Homo sapiens: one gene and its partner. The protein of the gene in region 2 interacts with the protein of the main gene of each other region in a biochemical or structural test. Each region holds a gene or a part of one and is shown on either strand. Other genes may lie near its edges.

Region 1 (3,924 bases), on a different chromosome or scaffold from region 2:
ATGACTTTATAATTGTGACTCATAAATATACGAGACTTCGCGATTTTTTGACTGGACTCTACATCTTTTCTACTCAAAGTATAGACCAGGGACCAGCAATATGGGCATCACTTGGAAGCTTGTTAGAAATGCAGAATCTTGGGCCCTACCCCAGACCAGTGCACTTAGCAGCTGAATTTTACCAAGATCCCAGGGGATTCACATGTATATTAAAATTTGAGAAACAGAACTTGCACTTTCCACTCTATTATTTGGATTTAAAGTGGACGCGCATTAACACTGATCAAAGGTTAACTGACCGTATTTGAGAAGAAACAAACTATTCACAGAGATCCTCTATCAAGAGAAAAACATTCTGCAATCTTATTACTGGCTTCATCAATAGTAAAGCTTAAGTTTTGAATTTCAAACCGATCATAAAAATTTTAAATTTATACATTTCATGCTTCTAAATTTCTCAAGGATACCACAAAAAGATGACCTATCGTGACTTATCTTTATCCTGCTTTTAATAAATGCCCGGAAAACTGTCAGCCCTTTAACATACAAAAATGAAGAAAAACATGATTTTAATGAATCACTAGGAGGGTTTCTTTTTTTAAATCATTTTCAATCTTCCCAGCAAATTTTGGTTACGGTAATTTCAATGACTAAATTCATGGTCCATATTAACCTGTTACCCATATTCTCTAGTAACAGCTAACTTAATTTCCTACCGAGTCTTAGGAGTAAGATTTTGTAGCACCAATCTATCCCTCACCCCTATGTGCAGAAACATGAGAACTCACATTTCAGACATCAGTTGGTCTATGGTGAAATAATTTATAGAAGGCAGCATTGTTCAGGAGGCAGTGAACAACCAGAAAAGCCAGTTTGGGGACAAAAGTATTTTTATATAATTATCTTCTTTAAGTTACCTCTAATGTAAAGCTCTTTCAGTTATTATTCATTCTCCTGACATCCACTATCAGTGTTAATTCTGTAGCATGCACACATTTCTGGAATATGTAAATTTGGGGGATCTCTAAAGAACTTCCAGTGAAGGATAAGCTGGAGTCGCATTATTTATGTAAAACACAGCTATCTTTCCTAAGAGGCACTGTGATATCTTTTTTTTTGACACTCTCTATAGTCATTTTCACATTTTATATCTCTAAAAAGACATTCTTAATGTGTTCATGATGCTCTGCCATTAATCCAATAGCTTGCAATTTCACTAAGAGCCTCCCACAGTCCACAGTGTAAAAAGACACTTAGCAAAGTTGCCAAAACCAGAGCCAGAAGATTACCTGATCTGTCAGCTTCAATCTCACTTACTCTCTTGTAATAAGGGATCAATAAAGTCAGACACTAATAAAAACTATTGAGATCGCTGATGGATAATGGTGATTCTTCTGCAAATGGATGACAGTTGATGTTCTTCCACTCTGGTCCAATTTTTAAAAAAATTATTACTCTTTATCTAGACATTCTGGCAGTTCCTTAAATGTTAATAATACACATGAGTTCTAGATGTGGTTTATGTCTTACTTTTTAGAAGTGTATGGAATATCCAAATTTTGCCGAGGTTTTTGACAAACATCCAGTCTACTCCAGTTTGCCAACAGTTCTATATATGAAATTTGCTCTTTGCTGCACACCTACTATATGCCTGGCTGGTAGTAAGGATGCAAAGATGGCAGACAGCCTCTGCCTACAAAGATGAGGCACCTGTCATCCAAAGATGGCGGACAGCCTCTGCCTACAAGAAGTTTACTATCTATTAAGAACACAGATATGTAAATAGATCATCTCAATTTAATGTGATTTGGTATATCAACAGTGGAAAATGTATAGGGGACGACGGAAGGAAGAATCATCCATGGTGTGTGTGAAAAAATGTCTGAAATAGTTTTATAAAACTAGAACCTATATGTAATAGTGCTATACAGTTTATTATTATTCGTACATGGAAAATAATATCCATATGTGCATCATTGTCAAAGCTTCCCCCTACCCTACTTAACCCTAAATTGGTAGGTTCTGGGCTTAAGTGCTTTTCTGTCACATGGTGTATGCTTAGGAAACTCTGATTAATGTAAATAATAGCCTAAGCAAGACTTAAATCAAAAGGCTAATCCGTAACTTATAATGCATGACAAAGCAACTTTTTGGATTCCCTATCTTTTTGTGCTTTTGGGTGACTGGGAAATATTTCCTAATTCAGGTAACTTGGAGTCATGTCTATTTTTATTGGACAATATGCAATAATCTGTCCAATTAGATTGCTCCTATAGCCACTTCATGAGGTGTATGTGTGTGGGCGTGGGCGTGTGTGTGTGTTTCAGGTGGTAAAATTCCTACTAAAGGCTTAGGCATAGCATTGGAGTAGACCAGCCAGCCGGTTTCAATGGCAGGAAAGAGACTGCAGAATTTTGTGGTGCACATGGCATTTGAAAAATCATATACAGTAGTGTAATCTTAAATTTAGAATATCAGGAAAAAAACACGTAATGTTTTGATAACACAAATAAAAAAGTCATGATTGGTAAAATTTTCCTAGGTGGTGGGATGTACAGATAGTAGGCCAAGTTCCATGTTAGAAAGGCTTGGGATTCTTGTGTCACTTAAAAGGAGGTACTGGTTTAAAAAGATTGCACTAAGCTGTGAGTTCACGTAGGTCTGGGGCACCATATTATTTTCTAGCTCAATGCCTGGCATGCATTAATATAAACACTAAATGTTCATCTGACAAAACAGAATAGAAATAAACATATATTCAAGTGAGGATGTGTCACACACTGGTAGTATGACCTTGGGTCAAATAGTTGACCATTCCATCACAATTTCCTATGCTAAATGGGAATGATAATAGCATACACCTCATGGAGTTGTTCTGAGAATCCATCAATTCAGGCATTTTTAAAATTCATTTAGCATATACTTAAATTCTACTATGTGCCAAGCACTGGGCAAGTCACTAGGAAAATAATGACTTGAAGAGACATATTATCTGCCCTTGGACAGGAAATAATAGATGTGATACAATTAGCACAGAGCCTGTAACATATTACATATAGACTGAAGAGATATTAATTACTATGACAATCCTTTGCCTCCTCCTCATCACTGGGCTTTCATTATATGATCACATTTCATATCAGGTGACTATGTTTTGAGTATCAGATAAAATTTTCAAATGATATACAGTATTTTGAGTCTTTTTAATGTAGAATGAAGTATACTGATTAAATTATTAAGTTACAAGTTGGTACAAGGAATAGTAAAGGAAAACACCACGGGGAAATATTTCTTTCCTTCTCATACTCCAATTTGGTGGTGTTTTCTGAAGCTGGCCTATATCTGGTAGAAAGCATCAAGAAGGCACACCACTCCTCTGGCTTGGATGCACGGCCCATGCCCTCTCCCATCTCTAGCTAACAGCTGCTCATCCTTCAGGATACAGCCTGGGCATCCTTGCTTCCATGAGGCCTTTCCTAACTTCCCAAACCTCCTGCAGCAGAGCACTCATCCTGCTGTTTATTTTGCACTGGACTGTGGGCCTTAGGTCTCATCTGAATATATCCTGGACTCATCAGAGGGCTGGACACAGACTAGGTGATCAATAAAAAGGGTCACTGAAACAAGCCACCAGAAATCCTCTTCCCCTTTTTTCCCCTTAAAGGTCAAACATAATAGCAGCTTAACTATGACACGAATCTTTCAAATCCATCGCTTTGGCTGTCGTGATAGAAATCATAGTTTCAAGAACCTTTGTTCATTAATTTGCAAGAGATCCCTTCCCAGGTTTTTCAAAATACATCCACACAGATGTCTCGGAAGTTGCAGTGCTCGGTGGTTATGTTATTCCAGTTCTCTCTCAGTGTCTATTTATATAAGCTATCCAAAGCACTTTGAAAAAGACACAACTTGTATGGCAAGTTT
Region 2 (3,924 bases):
ATTTTGTATTTTTGGTAGAGATGGGGTTTCTCCATGTTGGTCAGGCTGGTCTCAATCTCCCGACCTCAGGTGATCCACCCACCTCAGCCTCCCAAAGTGCCGGGATTACATGTAACTTATTATTAAACATTACCTGGTTAACCTTCTCTACCTGCCTCTCCTATCCCATTCTTTCCTTCCTTTCCCTCTTCTTCCCTCTTCCAAAAAGAAAAAGAAATTGGGCCTTTTAATTTTGAGCCAGAGAAACTGCTGCGAAGGCCTTTGCCCAGCCTCACCCTGGGAGTTAGTCGTCGTCTTCATTGTCGTCTTCGTTGTCTTCTTCTTTCTTCCTCTCTTCTTCTTTCTTCCTCCTCCTCTTCTTCTTTCTTCCTCTTCCTCTTCTTCTTCCTCTTGCTCCTCCTCCTCCTCCTCTTCTCCCCCAACCCCCACGTTCACTTCATCCCCTGGGAGCTGAGGCTTCCAGGCTCCAGCCTGCAACACATACCGTTCTACTCCCTCTCATCCACAGCCTGCCGGACCACAGGCTGCCCCTACCCCCACTGAAGGGCTGCCACACCAGCCCCGCTTGTCACTGCATTTCTGCTAACTCTTTCTGTTGCGTCCGCACATGACAGGCCCCACCACCATGTGCACATCTGGAAGCCCCACTCAGGTGGCTTCTTTGCCCAAATGCGCTCCTAGTTTTCCACTTCCTGGTGAACCAGCTGTGCTCTTGAGCTCTTGCCCGCGTCCCCTTCTCAGCATCGTCCCATTTCCACTTCCTCACCCCCACGCAACAGGGGATGCTGACCTCAGATCCTCATGCACTGCAGCACAAGACACCCTGTCCCTTCAGGGCCCTTCTCCAATGCTTGTTCATCATGACACTGAGACGTGGTCTCCAATCCATCAAGATCCCTCCTGCTGGGGTCCTCACAAGTTCTGTCTTAATGGACCACTTGGAGTCTTGCCTATTACCTGTAATGGCCTGTAAATTTCCTGGAGTACGGACCAGGAGTGGTTCTGATTCCCCACGGCAACAAGCGGATAGCAGGCTGCTGGTAAAGATCTGTAGAATAGATAAAGAGCCACGTGGTCTTTTATTACATAATCCTAAAGAAAATAGGAAACGAAGGACAGGATTCCATCTTAAGAAACCCCTTTCAGCTGGGCGCAGTGGCTCACATCTGTAATCCCAGCACTTTGGGAGGCCGACAGATCACCTGAGGTCAGGAAACCAGCTTGGCCAAAACCGTCTCTACTAAAAATAAATTATCCAGGTGTGGTGGCTCACACTAGGGGGACAGAGGCCGAAATTGTGGCTGCAGGAACATGGCGAAGGTCCGGTTGACTCTGCACCTGCGAGTCGTAAATCTCACGGTCCAGCCAGCCTGCTCTGGGTCTCTCTCTTCCATCCTTGGTATTTCAAAGAAACACTTGCAGCTCCTTCAAAGCCACATAGCCTCACTTCCCCTCTTCTCCCTGGTAAACTCAGCAAAAAAGGGACATCCACAGCAAAAGGAACTCAAGAAACAGTAATAATCCTGGGGACCTGGACTCACTGAGACAGCCCAGAGACCGTAGTGATCAGGGTGCGGCCCTTTTCAGTGCCATTGAGAACAAGGGAGGGAGAAGTCACCTTCTCTTGCCACATCTTTGTCATTGCACTCCTTCCCCAACCTGGGGCTGCAGAGAAGGTCTGCCCACCTGGCTTCTGAGTCATCCAAGTCTAGGAGGTTGCTCTTTGCCTATGTCCCCTGGTCCCCAGGTAGGTGCCAGTTAGGAGTGAGGTGTGGGCAGTGGCCGCCCTGGTGGGTTCCCCTCTCTCTGGCTTCTCCTTACAACTTTTTCCTTCCCTTTAAGCTTTACAAATACATTCCACTTGCAACAATGTTATGTCTGTATTAAACTTTAAAATTATACTCTGAACAGACCTGGTGTGATTCCATATGGAATGATTTACATGCTAGGCAAGAAACTTTTGCCAGCCAACTGCTAGTTGAATAGTTATTCTAGAGACATTATCAGATTCTATTACTGCCAGGGAAGTTGTTAAAGTTGACAGTTCTTCGGTTCCTGGAGAGCAGGAAATTGTAATGTTAATGCTTATTAATGTGGCTGTTGTCAAAGGTATAAGTAGAAAATAATCACTCTGGTGGCTCATGCCTGTAATACCAACACTTTGGGAGGCTGAGGCGGGTGGATCACTTGAGGTCAGGAGTTCGAGACTAGCCTGGCCAACGTGGTGAAACCCCGTCTCTACTAGAAATACAAAAATTAGCTGGGCATGATGGCACATGCCTGTAATCCCAGCTACTCGGGAGGCTGAGGTAGGAGAATCGCTTGAACCTGGGCAGAGGTTGCAGTGAGCCAATATCGCGCCACTGCACTCTAGCCTGGGTGACAGAACGAGACTCTGTCTCAAAAAATAAATAAAATAACCCCTCTGTTGTGCTCTTGCAGCATTCTGAAGTCCATGGAGTTTGCACCGTCCGAGGGCGCTGGGACACAGGTACGTGTCTCACCTCAATGGTCAGCACTAGCATCAGCCCCGCTGCTGGTTACCACTGGTCCCTCCGGCATATCCCATGATCCACTGTTTCTACGAGACCTCTCACTTACAGCCGATGAGTCATACTTCAAGAACATTTAACCAAGTTGAAGCAAATTATCTTTTTTTTTTTGTCTCCTTTTTTTCCATGTGTCCAAGGCATGAACCAGGCATAGATCAAAAGCCAAGCTGGGGATGAACAAGGGATTGCTTCATCCCTGACTGATAGGAGATGGGCACTACCAAAAAGCAAATTATCTTTAACAAAAAGAGGCAAAAAGAGAAAAGCTAGTGTTTTCCAAACTGGTAACTGAAGTGAAATTGTGATTTCACTTCAGCAGGTACTAAGAACATAAATAAAAAACAATTTCAGATTGTGTTTAAGAAGGCCAGGCTCAGTAGCTCATGCCTGTAATCCCAGCACTTTGGGAGGCCAAGACAGGAGGATCGCTTTGAGGCCAGGAATTTGAGACCAGCCTGGGCAATATAGCAAGACCATGTTGCTATTAAAAAAAAAAAAAATAGCCAAGTACTGTGACATATACCCGTGGTCCCAGCTACTTGGGAGGCTGAGGCAGGAAGATCGCTTGAGCCCAGTAGTTCAAGGCTATAGTGAGCTATGATCGCACCACTGCACTCCAGCCTGGACAACAGATTGAGACTGACTATTTTTTTTTTAATTGCATTAAAGAGCAGCCAAAAATGGATTGGTTTAGGAACTTTAGTTACATGCTGCCTCAGTAGAGAAGGTACAAGGGAAGGATGACTGTGGCCCAGGGTCATCTGGTGGCCAATTAAAATTGACATCCCAGACCAAGCATGGTGGCTCACTCCTGTAATCCCAGCACTTTGGGAGGCTGAGGTAGGTGGATCACTTGAGGTCAGGCATTTGAGACCAGCCTGGCCAATATGGTGAAACCCTATCTCTGCCAAAAATATAAAAAATTAGCTGAGCGTGGTGGCGCACGTCTGTAATCCCAGCTACTTGGGAGGCTGAGGAAGGAGAATCACTTGAACCCAGGAGCCAGAGGGTACAGTGAGCCAAGATCATGCCACTGCACTCCAGCCTGGGCGACAGAGTGAGACTCCATCTCAAAAAATTAAAAAATCAAATCAAATAAAATTGACATCCTAAGTGGAATCTGACTCCTGATGCCCAGAAGACAGCCAACATCTTTGTGGCTGGCAAAAAAAAAAAAAAAAGAAAAGTTCCCTTTACAGTAACGTTCGGACAGACGTTTGTGGCTTGGCAGCCAGTCTTATGGCCAAATGAGGCACGGGCTCAGGTCGCTTGAGTTTGAGAACAGATGAGAGAATAATTAATTTTTTTAGGAGCTGTGGAAGTCTAAGAAGGAAAATGACTTCAACTAGAATCCATTCTTTCTAAAGGGAAC

The links.
Region 1: the proteins of CUX1 (region 2) and SATB1 form a complex in vitro, tested with the Homo sapiens proteins (one study listed by BioGRID).

What each region holds. Positions count from the first base shown.
Region 1 is NC_000003.12:18,397,618-18,401,541, forward strand, and holds part of SATB1 (DNA-binding protein SATB1), read right to left. Parts: intron 1-3,924. UniProt on the Homo sapiens protein: Crucial silencing factor contributing to the initiation of X inactivation mediated by Xist RNA that occurs during embryogenesis and in lymphoma.
Region 2 is NC_000007.14:102,191,400-102,195,323, forward strand, and holds part of CUX1 (Homeobox protein cut-like 1), read left to right. Parts: intron 1-2,442; coding exon 2,443-2,491; intron 2,492-2,676; exon of another isoform or gene 2,677-2,806; intron 2,807-3,924. UniProt on the Homo sapiens protein: May be involved in intra-Golgi retrograde transport.